2 separate regions of the Homo sapiens genome follow, and region 1 is linked to region 2. The links come from fine-mapping of genetic effects on gene expression. Tissue or cell type: whole blood. Region 2 holds a variant in brackets; the other region holds the start of a gene. All regions are shown on one strand. Distances are between the middles of the regions.

Region 1 (8,186 bases), 32 kb before region 2:
TCCTTGTGAAAATAGAGGATACAAAATTGTCTAATTTTCATGACACCTAGAAAACGTTTTCCCAGAGCTGCCTATTCAGAAACTAAAGCCCTCACTGTCATTATTCTTTAAGAAGATGAAATTACTCTGGATGTTTGGTATTTTTTTACATTAAAACAAACTAAAGCAAAATTTAGAAGAAAGAACTACACATATGTAAATACCATATTTTTGATAAAAATGTGTAAATAGATTTATCAATGATGAGTGGACATGTGGTCAATTATCTACTGCACACCAACTGTTTATAGAATACACAAAAATAAAATGTAATAACTGTATTCTGTGAATACCATTTTCATATCAAATGCCATATTTAAATGTCCACCAATATGATTTCTGAGTGGTAAACCTCAAATATGAATTTTAAACTGGTGAACTAAAGGAAATCTTGAGGTCATATACTGAAATATGAATAAATTAAAATAATGAATTCAGATCTAATCATTTTTATGACAAATTGCAGCACCAAACAAACTAATAGCAACCCATGGCTGTGATTTGTTGTGTGGTAATTTGGACAGAATGAAAAGCATGCTTTTGATTTTTTTTTTAATCAGTGAGAGAAGTCATCATTCTCAACACAAAGCCCTGAACAACAGCATTTGACAGTGTCCTTTAGATTTTAATTTTTTCAATGGATTGCTTTAAAGAGAATGAGTAGGGAAAATAGTAGTTAATTTTAGGTTATGTTTTATATTAGGCTACTGGGGACATAAACGGTCATAACTAATGACTGTAATCATTAAACTCCTTAAACAGTTTAGAAATTAGCTCCAGGTTCTTAAACTAACAAAAATAAAACCTAAGCATGCCACAGAGCTATTGATTAATCAGTAAGTACCTGTAATGAGTTTTCAGTGAAGCTTTCTCTCTGTGCTGATGAGATTCATGCTACCTAAAAATTAACAGAAATGACACTGTGAACAATGTAGTTGGAAAATAGGTATGTGTATATGCATTATTTATACTCATTGTTAAACTGGGAATGGGGAACAGCTCTGGTTCACAATACTACATACAACTGAGTTTTTGTCTGGTTTTACTATAGTGTCTGCTTGATGGCAAAAGGGGAGGGTGGAGGGTGGGAGAGGAAATGTCAGGGCATGTGCTCTGATAAAATAAAGGCAGGGAAACAAGCTGAATTACTTGAAATTACTTGAATTTTCTTGTCTTAAAACTGAAAAAAAAATGTAGTTACACGTTAAAATCTGCAAATGGTTTTTACACCTCTGATTTTAACATGAACTTATACTAATGTTTGGAATCTTATGTCAGAAATATAAGCAGCTATGTACTTAGAATAGGTTTTGAATGGGAGAGGTAGAACAGAGAGAGAATTAAGAAGGGATCTGACTTATAAAAGACTAGAATGTGATTAGAGTGATAGAACATACCAATGTTACCAAGAAATTGACAAGCTGCTGGCTTTAAGCTTATGCAAGTGGTAGTTGGGAAAGTAGGAGGTGTGGAAGAGGGTTTGCATTTTGGATTAATTCATGCAAAATGAAGGAGGAAGCCTGGTCTAAGAAGATACTGTCTTTCAATAGAAATGATTTCTAAACTGCTACAGATTAAGAATAGATAATCTGATTGCTGTTGTTTTGTTTGTTTGGAAAGAAAAAAAATGTCTGGCTTCTTCTACTATTTGTTTTCACTACCAAACTGTGTTACTAAATTTCTTGTCATCCTTGTATGTAAAATGGGTGCTGGGGGTGGAGGGGTATAAGAGGAGGGAGAGTCAGAGAGAGTGTGTATGGGTGTGTGTGAGTGTGAGTGTGTGTGTACGCACACACACTGGGGATAGATAAGCTACCTGGTAAAGGGTTTGAACATTTACAAAATGTCACACTTTTTCTTAAAAGAAAAATATTTTGGGGTTTGAATAAAATGGACCACCATTTCTCATTGGAACCCATTAATTAAGAAAACCAGCATGGTTTGACACCACATGGGAACATGAATAAATCTGTCTCATGATTTGAAAAGTACACCTTGCAAAGTTTTAAAAATAAAGTTTTTAGGCAAATGCGATAAGAAACCGTCATTTCCAGTCACAGTAGGCGATCTTTCGTAATTTCATAAAAGCAGTTCGTTTGCAGTATGGCTTTTGTGTAGTTAGGGGTTTTTTAAGTGTGAAGAAAGGTATGTGGGCTTTAAAAGTGATTCTAAATCTTGAATAGAAAACACATGAATTGGCTTTAATAAAAATGTCACCTTTTTATTATTGACATTAAGTAATGGTACCATATATTTTTTAAAATACATATTGACTTGAATTGTGAGGCAATAAGATACCTTCTATATGTAATGATCACAGAACTAACCCTTATAATATAGTTTTACTTATTTTGTTTACTCTAAAAATCTATAGCAGAGTTTCTCTATTTTATATTTCATAGATTTAAAAAACCCAAATAAAGATGGATTTAAAATTCACTGTGGAAAAGAGTATTGAGTTACAAACTGAGAAGAAAAAGCAGGAAGTTCCCTAATAATCTGGAATATTCTACATGGCTTGATTACATAGCAAACAAGACCAAGATTTAGGGCTGTCTTTAACATCACTGCCGTCTTGAAGCAGGGTACACACGTTAGGTATTGTGAAGAACATCAATCCGAACTTTTCTTCTGTTGTTTGCACTGATGCGATTTTTTGTTCTTTTATGTTTATACAACGTATCTATGTTGTGTAGGGGAAATTTTTTCATTTTTTAAAAATTCTACTTTGGTTTTGTTGTTGTTTTGATTTGTTTTTGGCTAAGTAGAGGACATGGACTAGTTGTAGCAAACAGAACATGCTGTTTGCTCTTGCCAAAGGTCAGTGAGTGAGTGCATTTGCTGCAGTGGTGGCACGTAGAGAACTAGATGGTAATAAAGATTTAAAACTATGAAGAAGGTTACAGTGTAACTATTTTGGTACTAGAACCAGTTCATGCTGGCCGAAACGACAATGGTTTATGGACTTGCATCCATTTTGTATTTTTGTAATATTTGTAAATATGAACTTTTTAAATTGCTGCAAAGATGGTTTCTTTTGTAAGATGTTTTCAACGTTTACATTCAATCCAAGCCTTTGTATATTTTAGAGCTGTGCAACACTTTAAGTCTTGTATTTATTTTTAGTAAAAATGGTGACAGTTTCATTGTGAACCCCTCTCAAAAAAAATGTATCAGAAAAGTTTGATTACCTAGAAAGTGTGTATAGAAACTGCAAATAAACGTGACTGCAATTAAACAACCGGTTTCTCTCTTCACTGTTACGTAATTGATTTCTTGGGGCTTCGCAACAGTGTTTTACAGGCAACAGGACATAAGGGCAGGGTCTGTTATGGCAAAAGTAGGAGCAAAAAGAACATAGACCAGCCTGTCCAACATGGTGAAACCCGTCTCTACTAAAAATACAAAAATTAGCTGGGCATGGTGGCAGACGCCTGTAATCCCAGCTACTCTGGAGGCTGAGGCAGGAGAATCGCTTGAACCCAGGAGGCAGAGGTTGCAGTGAGCCGAGATCACACCGCTACACTCCAGCCTGGGCAACAAGAGCAAAACTCCGTCTCAAACAAAAACAAAAACAAAAAAAAAACATATACTATATCTATAATGGGCTTTAATCTAGCTTCGTATTTGAGAGGAAAAATGATACATTTCCAACGTCCAGTATACTTTCTTTGTAGCTCCTCTCTGGGCCAAGAAAAGATGTATAGCTTTACTTTGAAATATCTGCCTGCTTTGCTTCTGATAATTACTCAGACTGTGTCTCCTTCCCAAGATGAGCAGCCTCGATATAAGTATGTAAGACTATATGCCACTAGATGATGTCACATAGCCTTTATTACAATAGCAAAATTCTATGCCAGGTACTGTTCTAAGTGCTTTGCATACATTAACTCATGTAGTCCCCATATTATACCCATTTTACAGATGGGGAAACCGAAGCACAAAGCGGTTACTTGGCTTGCCTAAGGCCATAGGAGGACTGTGTTGGAGCTGGGGGTCCAATCCAGTAAATCTGCCTTCAAGGTCTGCGTTAGTTCCCCAGTCCAACTTGTGGGTGCTGGAGACTGGAAATATCTTGCCCGCCCCCCACCCTGGCCCCCCTCGCCCTTCCTACCAGACCTGGCTCAGGGCAACTGCTAAGGCCCCGCCCCTCTCCTCATTCCAAGTCAATCACTGGCGTGCGTCCAGGAAACCCAGTTTACGACGACGTCTCTGGTGCGTCACAGAGCGCGGGGGAGGGGCGGGATCACATTAAAAAAAAAAAAAAGCTTCGGACACCCCAACAACGAAGGGGGGACACCACGTCCCTAACTACAACGCCACTAGAAGGGTTGCGCATGCGCGCCAGCCTCCTGCGCAGCCGCAGAAACCACTCAGCGCGCGAGTCTCTGAAAGGCCTAACGTCCATTTTCAATCCTGCGGGTCTTGCGAAGGAAAACCTGAGGTAAGAGGCCCCGCCCCACAGCCATCTCCTCAGCAAATTCCCGCCCTCGGCCCCGCCCCACAGCTATCTCCTCAGCAAATTCCCGCCCTCGGCCCCGCCCCACAGCCATCTCCTTAGCAAATTCCCGCCCTCACCCAAGGACTGGGAGAGCACCCGCGGATTGGCCGATCAACGGTGACGCCTGTCAGTGGCCAGACTCCGATTGGTCAGCGGGTAGTCCCGCCCCCCCCCCCCCCCCCCCCCCCCCCAACCGCGAGTGTGGGAATTCGGCGTCGCGGGAGCTCTCTGATCCACTCAGGGGTCAGGGCATCACTGGTCTCGCGTGCGCGTGACCAGGCCCGGTTTCCGGTGCCAGGACCTTTCCGAAGCGTCGAGTGGCCTAACGGTCACAGCTGTCGCCCATCGGAGAGGCAGGACTACTGCGAGCAGTTTTACCGCGACCTCCGGAGGCCGGCGTGACAGGCTCTGTCACTAAAATAGGTCTGTCCAGTCGTACTTTTTCCTCACCTTGAACTTTCCGTCACGGGAATACACGATTTGGCTTAGGGGCCGGGGCTCTCCTGAGGAGAGAGGGTTTGCTTTGCGGGGAAGAGCGAGTCTTGACTTCGCAGCCTCCAATTTCAGCCGCGGTGTGGAGGGGGGTGCTTTGGGTGGTCCCCACAGCCTTTCCGGAGTGCCCGCGCGTGTAAGCTTTTGAGATTTGACAATTTGTGAAGTGCTTGGTGCTGACTTTCGGGGACGACAGGATCCTTTTACAGTCATTCTCCTGTCAGGGGAGGCAGGTGGGGAGCGAGGAAGGATCCAGATTTCGTTAACAGAGCTTTGAGTTTAAAGAATTGACAAACTCCCGAGTTGATTTCCTGTCAGACCTTTTGCGGTTGAGACATAGAGTCTGAGGCTTTGATGGTAACCGCGTTTGATTTAGAGACAGACTGTGCAGCTTCGCTGTTTTATTGTAAATACGTAAATGAGGAGGAAGAGAAAAACGTAGGGTGTTGGGAGCAGAGGCGGGAGGCGGGAGATCCTGCGAAATCGGAGTCCCTTTGGAGTGGGGGAGGCCGTCGAGGCGTGCGAGGGCCCGGCCCCCTTGCCGCGTGGTCGTTAACAGGAAAGGCCCTGATTTGGTTGGTGGCGGATCGCGTCCCTCCCTCCTCTCCCCGGCTCTCCCCGAGTGCGGCAAACTGGCTTCAGGTTGACTAAAAGATAGCGATTTTCCAAGCAGCTTTGCCGCGCGGTGTTTTCTAAAGCGGGGCGTGGGCTGGGTGCCCTTTTGGGCCTCACTTGTCCGGCCTGCGGCAAGTGCTGGGCGATGGGATGCGGTTCTGGCGGCAAAGGAAGGGCTGCCTTTGAGAGTCCCGCAGGAAGGTTTAGAAAGTGATTGTTCTTAAAACAAACAGAGCGTTTTGCTGTGTGTTCCTCAAAGTGGTCCCGGTGGGAGTGGCGCCTCATTGTGAGCTGTGCCTTATCTGATGAATTAATGGCAGGTGAAAGCCTTGCGCCTCCGGAGCGAATATTTACGACTTTTGAAAATGTCTTTAATGTCTAAAAAAAGTCTTTTAGAAAATCAGACGGCCTCTTGTTCTTATGTTATCAAGAGTTTAGATTTCTGTGGTAAATATAAGTGAGTTTCATTTTAAGTAAACTCATTTTACGAGATTTGAGATTTGAAAGTGAAATTAATTAATTTTGCACAATCTAGCCTTGGGCTCTGAGAAAATGTTGTAAAGCTGTAATTAATCTTGTGGGACGAAGTGAAAAGGAACTAAAGTGTATGGTGTAATGAATAGTTTAAATTTCTGTGGTAAATACAAGTGAGTTTCATTTTAAGTAAACTCATTTTTATGGGATTTGAGATTTAAAAGTGAAATTAATTAATTTCGCACAATCTAGTCATGGTTGGGCTCAGAAAATGTTGTAAAGTTGTGATTTATCTTATGGAAAGAAGTGAAAAGGAATTAAGGTATATGGTGTAATTAAGAGTTTAAATTTCTGTGGTAAATGCAAGTGAGTTTCATTTTAAGTAAACTCATTTTTACGGGATTTGAGATTTAAAAGTGAAATTAATTCATTTTGCACAGTGTAGTCATGGTTGGGCTCTGAGAAAATGTTGTAAAGCTGAAATTATTTATCTTGTGGGAAGAAGTGAGAAGAAACTAAAATGTGTGGTATTATCAAGAGTTTAGATTTCCGGGGTAAATATAAATGAGTTTCCTTTAAACTCATTTTTGTGGAATTTGAGGTTTAAAAGTGAAATTAATTTTGTAGAATCTAGTCATGGTTGGGCTCTGAGAAAATGTTGTAAAGCTGTAATTTATCTTGTGGGAAAAAGTGAAAAGGAACTTAAATTTATGGTGTTATCAAGAATTGGCCAGGCGCGGTGGCTCACACCTGTAATCCCAGCACTTTGGGAGGCCGAGGTGGGCAGATCACTTGAGGTCAGAAGTTCGGGACCAGCCTGGCCAACATGGTGAAACCCAGTCTTTACTAAAAGTACAAAAATTAACTGGGCATGGTGGTGCAAGCCTGTTACGCTAACTACTCGGGAGGCTGAGGGAGGAGAATTGCTTTAACCCGGGAGGCAGAGGTTGCAGTAAGCCGAGATCATGCCACTGCACTCCAGCCTGGGTGACAGAGTAAGACTCTGTCTCAAAAAAAAAAAAAAAAAAAAAAGAAATTTAGATTTCTGTGGTAAATATAAATGAGTTTCATTTTAAGTAAACTCATTTTGTGGGATTTGAGATTTAAAAATGAAATTAATTTTGCACATTCTAGTCATGGTTGGGCTCTAAGGCAATGTTGTAAAGCTGTAATTGTTTGCCTTATGGGAAGAAGTGAAAAGGAATTAAAATTTATGGTGTGTCTACTATGAACCAGGCATGATGCTGAGAGTTTAACTGTGTAATTTTTGGCCTAAATAGCCCTGTGAAGTAGATATTATTCCAACTTTACAGGTTAGAAAATTTGAGGCACAGAGAGGTGAAATATTTGCCTAAAGTGAAACGGCAAATTTGGCAATTTGGACTTGGATTCAAGTGTTTATAACTAAAGCCCAGCTCCTTGCATCATACCCTGGTACCTAAAAGACATAAAAACTCACTTCAGGTGCAATGTGAATGAAAATGACGTTATGACCCAGGCTTGTTGTCTATGTGCTCCTTGAGAAATAGTTCTGTTGGATAGATGCGGTCAATACTCAAAAGCCCTTGCTATCTTTGCCATGCATTACTCTAAGCACTTGACATGTATTAATTTAATCCTCACGATTCCGTGAGGTATGTGCTATTATCATTCCCATTTTACAGACAAAAAAAAAAAAGGATTTAAGTAAGTTGTTCAACTTACTTACACAGCTAGTATGTGGGGGAGGTGGGACCCAAACCCAGGTATTCTGACCACAAGCCTAAGGTCTTAATGCTGTTTGATGCTGCCTCTCATGTAACCAGATATGTGTGACAGTTGCCGTAGAAGTATTAAAGTGTGAGTGTTATTGTAGTTCAGGGAAAGCCGTGTCACATCCACATGGGATGATCATTGGCATGGTGCCCTTGCTTTTTGGAGGTGAAACTTGAAGTAAGCCTTGAAGTTGAATAGATTCTCCTAGGCGGAGACACAACAGGGTATTATGGACGGAGGGCATAACAGGAGCGAGAAGCTCAAAGAGTGAAAGATTGGTGTTGATTTGTATATGTACCAGAGATGTAAA
Region 2 (8,186 bases):
TGAACTTTCTTCTTGTGTTCCTGGCCCGTGTATCCAACCGTCAGCTAATGTCTCCACCTCCAAGCCACAGCCATCTCCTGTTCATCATCCCTGAGTCTTTTTCCATCCTCTTTTTTACCACTCTACCCCTCTCCAGTCCCGCCTGTGTCAACAGTACCCTCAGGGAGGAGTCATGAGTGTGGGTTTGGCATCTGCTACTGCCTGTGCACCCCCAAATCATTCCTAGGGACACCTGCCTGAGCCCCAGCCATCTGTATTTGCCCTCCCACTTCCTCAATGTCCTTGGGCACTAAAACTCCCCTGGAGGAGCAGGGGTGGGGAGGAATAGAAAGCAAGGAGTGGTGAAATGGCCACCTCCTGCGTCCTTTAGTTCTTATTGCAGTAGTTAGGATGGCATTTGGGTACTTCAATAGAGACAGCCTGAGCCCCCAGAGCTTCCCAATGGTAGAAACTGATTTCTCTTTTCTCTTCACATTGGCGGTCTGAAGGTGCTCCCACATCAGGGATCCATGCCCCTACCATCTTGTTGTTTTCTTTTCCTCAGCATGTGGCTTCCATCTCGTGGGCTGACATGGTTGCCATAACTCCTGCTGTCACATCCACATCCCCACTTGGCCACTCCTGGCCTCTGGAAAGTCTTGTGCCAACATGGCCACATGCCCAGCCCAGTCCTTATGCCTTCCTGTGCCCATGCCTCACACGATATCATACTTTCCCATCTCTTTCTGTCTAAGAGTGATCCATACACACCCATGATCTGATCTATCCCTGCCGATTCCTTTCTTTCTTATTGTGTTCCACACCCACACATGATCTGGCCTACACTCCTCCTTCTGCCTTGCTGTGTTCCATATCCACACATGGTCTCGATCTGCTCATCTCTTTCCGTCTTTCTGTGATCCACACCTACATATGGCATAATCCCAGCCCATCTTACTGTCTTACACTAATATATGCCCACCCATGTACTGCTCCCTGCCTGGCACTTCCTGTTTTTCTATCTATCATCCCACATGTGACCTGGGCCTTGCCCCACACATTTCTTTCCTGCTGCGATCCATCCACACACACAGTCTGGTCTATCCCTGCCCATTTCTTTCTTTTTCTAGCGAACCATACCCACACATAATCTGGCCCTGCCCATCTATTTCTGTCTAACCATGATTCCTACTCACATATGATCTGGCTCTGCCCATCTCTTTCTGTTTTCCTGTGATACAAATCTATATATTATCTCTGACCGCGATTTTTGTCTTAGTGCAATCCACACCCAATCGTGAATTTATCCCTACCCATCTCTTTTGGTCTAAATGTGATCTATCCATGCATATGATTTGGTCTCAGCTTACACATGCATTTCGGTCTTCCTGTGGTCCACACCAACACATGGTGTAATCCTTGCCCATCTCTTTTTTTCTTAATATGATCCATACCCAGGCACTACTGTGTCTCTGCTCTTCTATTTCCATCTTTCCCACACATGATTTGATCTCTGCTACTTTCTCTCTTGCTTCCTGTTTTCTGTACCCACATAAGGTCTGTTCCTACTGTTCCCCTTCTAAATGTGATCCACATCAACACATAGCCCTGCTCAGCTCTGTTTCTGGCTTCCTGTGATCCATGCCTGCACGTGATCTGGACATGCAGATCTTTCTTTCTTCCTGTGTTGCATACCCACACAGGATCTGTCATTGCCCTTCACTTTCTGTCTTCCTGTTCCCCGTACCCATACAGGATCTGGCTCTGTCCATCTCCTACTGTCTTCCTGAGATTCACAGCAAGACACGATCTGGCTCTGCCCATCTCTTTCTTTCTGTCTTTCTGTATTCCATATCTACACAAGATCTGTCATTTCCTCTCCGTTACTGTGATCCTGTGCTCCAAAACCACACATGATCTGGCTGTGCCCATCTCTTTCTGTGCTCCTGAGAACTATACCCACATATAATCTGGCTCCATCCTTCCCTTCTGTCTTCCTGAGACCAACACCCACACATGGTTTTGTGCTGCCCATGTCTTACTGTATTCCTGAGGATCACACCCACATAGGATCTGGCTCTGGCCACCTCTTTGTCTTTCTAAGATTCACACCCACAAATGATGTGGCTCTGGCCATCTCTTGCTGTCTCCCTGAGATCCACATGCACACATGATCTGGCTCTGCCCATCCCCTTTTGTCTTCCTGTGATTCAGACAAACCCACTATGTGTCTCTGCCCGTCTTTTCCTGTGTTCCTGGATACATACCCAGAAATGATCTGGTTCTTCCCAACTCTTTCTTTCTGTGTTCCATACACGTGCATGATCTGTCATTGCTTGTCATGTACTGTTTTCCCGTGATACATGATCTGTCATTGCCCTTCACTCACTGTCCCCCGATCCATACACACATGATCTGGCACTGCCCATCTCTTTCTGTCTTTGTGATATTCATGCAAAAACATGATTTGGCTCTGTTCATCTCTTTCTTTTTTTTTTTTTGCTGAGATCCATACCCACATGTGGTCTGTCCATTCCAACTATTGCTGTCTTCCTTAGATCCATACCGGCACATGATATGGCTCTGTCCATCCCTTTTTGTTTTCCTGTGATTCATGCCACACATGATCTCACTCTGCTCATCTCCTACTGTATTCCTGAGATTCATAGCTACATATGATCTGGCTCTGTTCATCTCTTACTGTCTTCCTGTGATCTATACCCACACATGATCTGCCTCTGCACATCTCTTACTATCTTTCTGTGTGGGATACTCACATATGATCTGTCATTTCCTACCAGTTACTGTTTTCCTGTCCTCTATACCCACATATGATCTATCTCTGCCTATCTCTTTGTCTTCCTAATATTCATATCCACACATGATCTGCCTGTGCTCATCAGTTTTTGTCTTCCTGTGATCCATACCCACACATTGTTTTATCTGCCCATTTCTTTTTTGTGGGGAAGGGGAGAAATTAAACCTTATTTATTTTAAAAACCAAACAACTAGGAAAATATATCACTGCCTGGAAACAGTGAACAGACAGGCTATATTATCATTTCAAGAAATAACCTGGTAAAACTGCAATGAAGTTGCTATCAAAACAATCAGGTGCCATGCTAGGGCATGAACACTGTGTGTTGCAAAGGCCCCAGGCAAAAATGGTCTTTGGTAATCGGGGACTGCCCCTCCTTTGCTACAGCTTATCTTAGCCCAAGTTGCTTACTTTCTCTTCCTTGAACTTCCTGTGGTCAGGGGTTTGTCTCAATTGGGCTCTGTTCATTCAGGGGCTATGTAAGCAATGCTGGATTTAGGCTTTCATTGCATTCTGTTCTATGAAAACCAGGTTTTTCCAAATCCACTACTTCACAACTCTCTTATAATCAACCAAGTAGCCAGCAACTCCTTCTTTCCTGCTCATTCCTGGATACTGGTATACATCACAACCAAAACCTCCTTTTCTTCCAGGGGAAAATGTGAGGGGAAGATCGTCCTGTCATTCTTCAGCAGACAGCCTCAGGGCCCATCGGCCAATAAGAGGGAAGCTCTGTTTCCCATAATTAGTGTGATGTCACTGCTCATGTTTTTGTGTGGTCCCCAGGCTGAAAGATGCAGTGTGTAAGAATTTTAAGAAGTGCACATCCACACCTTGATGGCCAGAAGAGGGTATCCACAAGGAACCTTTCAAACTTCTTATCTAAACTACTCTCCCTCCCAATTGCACATCTTAAAATCAACTTTATGCCCTTGAGTAAATAATTTTAAAAACCAAGGAAACAAAGACCCTGAAAACTCTTTTCCTCTTCCAAGTTAGTGTCCTCATGGATTTTGTTGCCCAGCTTCTGGAAAATGGTGTGGTGATGCCTCTGGGAAACAGGAGGTTGGCAACGAACAGAAACAGCTCTCCTCAAACTCCACCGAATCTGCCCTACCAGCCTGGTGGGCCCTGTGGAGGAAGAAGAATTTGGTCCTGCAGAGGGGTCTGGCTTGTGACAAGGGAGATCCCTACTGCCAGGACGAGCCCTGGCCACAGAAAATATCGACTTGAAAATATTTTCCTGTAATATCTCT[G/T]ACCCAAATTTTAGCACCGTTTTTTTCCATTTCACTTTTTAGGATTGAACCAGTTTCCAGAGGCAAGTGGCATATGCCTTACACTTGGTGCCATCCTTAATTTCTTCATTCATGAACTTGGCTTAAAAGATTAAACTTCCCATTCCTTTTAAAAATATATTTTTGCACTCAGCCCCCATGGCCACTGGCAAAGACTTTTATTTCCCAGTGGATAAGAGAGACACCTTCCTTGCCTTGCTCATGGTCTGGATGAGGTGCGTGTGGCCATCCACACCCTTGGTCACACAATCTTCCAGTGGCTGCTTCACCTGCAGCTCCTTCCTCCCTGCATCTGTTGAATCTTTGGCTTTGTCATTGCAATGCATGGTACACCCGGTCAGGCAGTCCTGGAACTTCTCCAGCTAGCTGGTCCCCAAGGCTTGGGCTTGAGCCAGAGGCGCATGCCAGCACTCAATGCACCGGTGCACCTGCTGCATGTGCACAACAGCTGGTGCTGCACCAGAACATGAGGCCCTGCAGCTTCCGGATGGTCTATCTCTCCAGACTCTTCACCATGGAGTCCACCTCCTGCACCTGCAGCTGCTGCACCTCCACTACGACGAGTCTGCACTGCCCCCCTATTTCTTACTATCTTCCTGTGTTCCATGCCCACACATGATCTGCCTCTGCCCATCTCCTTCTGTCTTCCTGAGGTCTCTGCTGACACATGACCTGGGTATGCTCATCTCTTTCTTTATTTCTGTGTTCCAAATCCCATATGTTCTGTAATTGTCCTTCAGTTAGTCACTTTCAGTGATCCATACCCACACATGATCTACTCTACCCATCTCTTACTGCCTTCCTCACATTCATAGCACACATGATCTAGGTCTGCTAATCTCTTTCTGTCTGTCTGTGTACCATATCCACACATATTCTGCCATTTCCTATCATCAGTTACTGGATTCCTGTGCTCCATACCCACACATGATCTGACTCTGCCCGTCTCCTTCTGTCTTTCTGAGCCTCATACCCACATATGACCTGGTTCTGCCCATTTGCCTGGGCCTTCCTGAGCCTCACACCCACTGATGATCTGTATCTTGTCACCTCTTCCTGTCTTCCTGAGCCTCACACCCACACATGATCTGCCTCTGATCACCTCTGTCTGTTTTCTATGCCTCCCCCACACACGTGATCTGTGATTTCCTATCAGTTAATACTTTCCTGTGTTCCATACCCACACATGATCTGGCTCTGCTCATCACATTCATTCTTCCTGAGGTCCATACTCATACATGAAGGGACACTTTTACTGTCTTTCTGACATTCATACCCACACACGACCTGCCTCTTTCCATTGCTTACTGACTCCCTCATAGTCATACTCACACATTATATGATTCTGCCCATCTCCCACTATCTCCCTGGAATTCACACCCAAACATGATCTGCCTCTGCCCATCTCTTACCTTCTTTCTGACATTCATATGCACACATGATGTTTTGCCCATCTGCCCATCTCTTACTGTCTTCGTGTCACTCATACCCACACATGATCTGCCTCTGCCCATCTCTTGCTGGCATCCTGACATTGATACCCAACATACCTGTCTCTGCCCATCTCTTTCTTCCTGACATTCATACACACACATGATCTGCCTCTGCCCATCTCTTACTGTGTTCATGACATTCGTACTTGCACATGATCAATTTTGCCCATCTCTTCCAGTCTTCCTGACATATATCCTCGCATATGATCTGCCTTTCCCCATCTTTTACTGTCTGCTTGACATTCCTCCCCGCACATGATTTGCCTCTATCTTTGCTGTCTTTCTGAAGTTCATACTCACACATGATCTGACTCTGCTCATCTCTTACTGTCTTCCTGGAATTCATACCCACAGATGCTCTGCCTCTGTTTATTTCTGACTGTCTTTCTGACATTCATATTTACAAATAATCTGCATTTTCCAGTCTCTTACTATATTCCTAAACATTCATACCCACACATGATCTGCCCCTGCCCATGTTTTACTGTCTTCCTGACAGTCATACCCATACATGATCTTCCTCTGCCCATATCTTGTTGTCTTTTTGACATTTATACACACACATGATATGACTCTGTGCATTTTTTGTCTTCCTGAGACTCATTTCCACACAGGATCTGGCTATGTTCATAAGTGTCAGTCATACTGTGTCATATGCACACATAATCTCTCCCTACCCATGTTTTTCAGTTTTCCTGTCATCCATACCCATCTATTACTTGGCTATCTCCATCTTTTTCATACTTTCTCTGTTCCATTCTCTGATACGATTTTTCACTTGTCTTCACTTTGTCTTCCTGTGACCCATTCCCACAAAAGATCTGGTTCTTCGCTACAAATTCTGTCTTCCTGAAACGCACACCCACTTATTGCCTGGCACTGCTGATTTCCTACTGTCTTCCTAAGATTCCTACCTACACAAGAAGGGGCTATGCCCATTCCATTCTTGTTTGTTTCTTTCATACTCACACGTGATCTGCCTTTGCCCATCTCTTATGTCTTCCTGACATTCATAATACACATTATCTGCCTCTGACCATCTCTGTCTTCCTGACATTCATACTCACACTTTATCTGCCTCTGCTCATCTTTTACTGTTATCATTCATATCACACATAATGTGCCAGGCATATCTTTTACTGTCTTCCTGAGGCTCTTGCCACACCTGATCTACCTCTGCTTATCTCTTACTGTCCTGATGTTCATAGCCACACATTATCTGCCTCTGCCCATCTACACCTGATCTACGTCTGCTTATCTCTTACTGTCCTGACGTTCATAGCCACACATTATCTGCCTCTACCCATCTCTTACTGCCCTTCTGATATTCATTCCTACATGTGACCCGCCTCTGCCCATCTCTGTTTTCCTGACATTCACAGCCACACATGATATGTCTTGTCCTACTCTTACTGTCATCCTGACCTTCATACCAAAGGTGATCTGCCTCTCCACTTCTTACTATCTTCCTGACATTCACACCACACGTGACGTGCTAGGCTTATCTTTTACTGTCGTCCTGACATTCATACCACACCTGATCTGCCTCTGCCCATATCTTACTGTCTTTTTGACATTCACACCAACACATGATCTACCTCTGCCAATGCCTTTCTGCATAATTGACATTCATAACCACACATGATCTGCTCTACCCACCACTTACTTGCTCCCTGACATTGATACCACATTGATCTGCCTCTGCCCATCTGTTACTGTCATCCTGACATTCATACCACACATGACCTGCCTCTGCCCATCTCTAACCGGTTTTGTGAGACTCATACTCACACATGATCTGTCTCTGTCCATGCCTTACTGTCTTCCTGACATTCACATCCAAAGATGATTTGCCACTCTCCATGTCTTACTGTTTTCCTGAGATTCATACCCACTCATTATCTGCTCTGCCCATCGCTTCCTGTCTTCCTGACATTCATACCACACATGATCTTCCTGTGCCCACCTCTTATTGTCTTCCCGACTTTCATACCCACACATGATCTGCCTCTGCCCATTTCTTACTGTCTTCCTGACACTCATGCCACACATGATCTGCCTGTACCCATCTGTCACTGTCTTTTTGACACTAATACTCACACACGATCTGCCTCTGCCCATGTTTTATTGTCTTCCTGACATTCATAACCACACAAGATCTGCCCCTGCCCATCGCTTACTGTCTTCCTGAAATTCATATCACACATGGTCTGCCTGTGGCGGTGTCTTACTTTCTTTCTGACATTCATGCTACACATGACATGCCCCTGCCCATCTCTTCCTGTCTTTTTTTACATTCATACACACACACGATCTGCTCTGCCCATCTCTTAGTCTCTTTCTGACTTTCATACCACACATGATCTGCCTCTGCCCATGTCTTATTGTCTTCCTGACATTCATATTCACACAGGATGTGCCTCTGCCCATCTCTTACCTTCTTTCTGACATTCATATGCCCACATGATGTTTTGCCCATCTCTTCCTGTCTTCCTGACATCCATACCACACATGATCTGCCTCTGCCTATCTCTCTCTGGTTTTCTGACATTCATACCACACATGACCTGTATCTTGCCATCCCTTGCTGTCCTCCTGACA

What was found. PIP is the estimated chance that this variant, and not a neighbour inherited with it, causes the effect.
Region 1: it holds the start of SCML1, and the variant in region 2 is fine-mapped to the expression of SCML1 in whole blood (TOPMed, PIP 0.91).

What each region holds. Positions count from the first base shown.
Region 1 is chrX:17,732,718-17,740,903 of GRCh38, forward strand. It overlaps SCML1 (Scm polycomb group protein like 1), which reads left to right and starts at 4,776. Exons shown (of 8, transcript NM_001037540.3): 1 at 4,776-4,963. It overlaps NHS (NHS actin remodeling regulator), which reads left to right. Exons shown (of 9, transcript NM_001291867.2): 9 at 1-3,277.
Region 2 is chrX:17,764,755-17,772,940 of GRCh38, forward strand. It overlaps the pseudogene FAM136GP. Among named protein-coding and RNA genes, the nearest start is that of SCML1, 31 kb to the left of the region's middle. The variant G/T (reference allele first, on the strand shown) is at 4,054.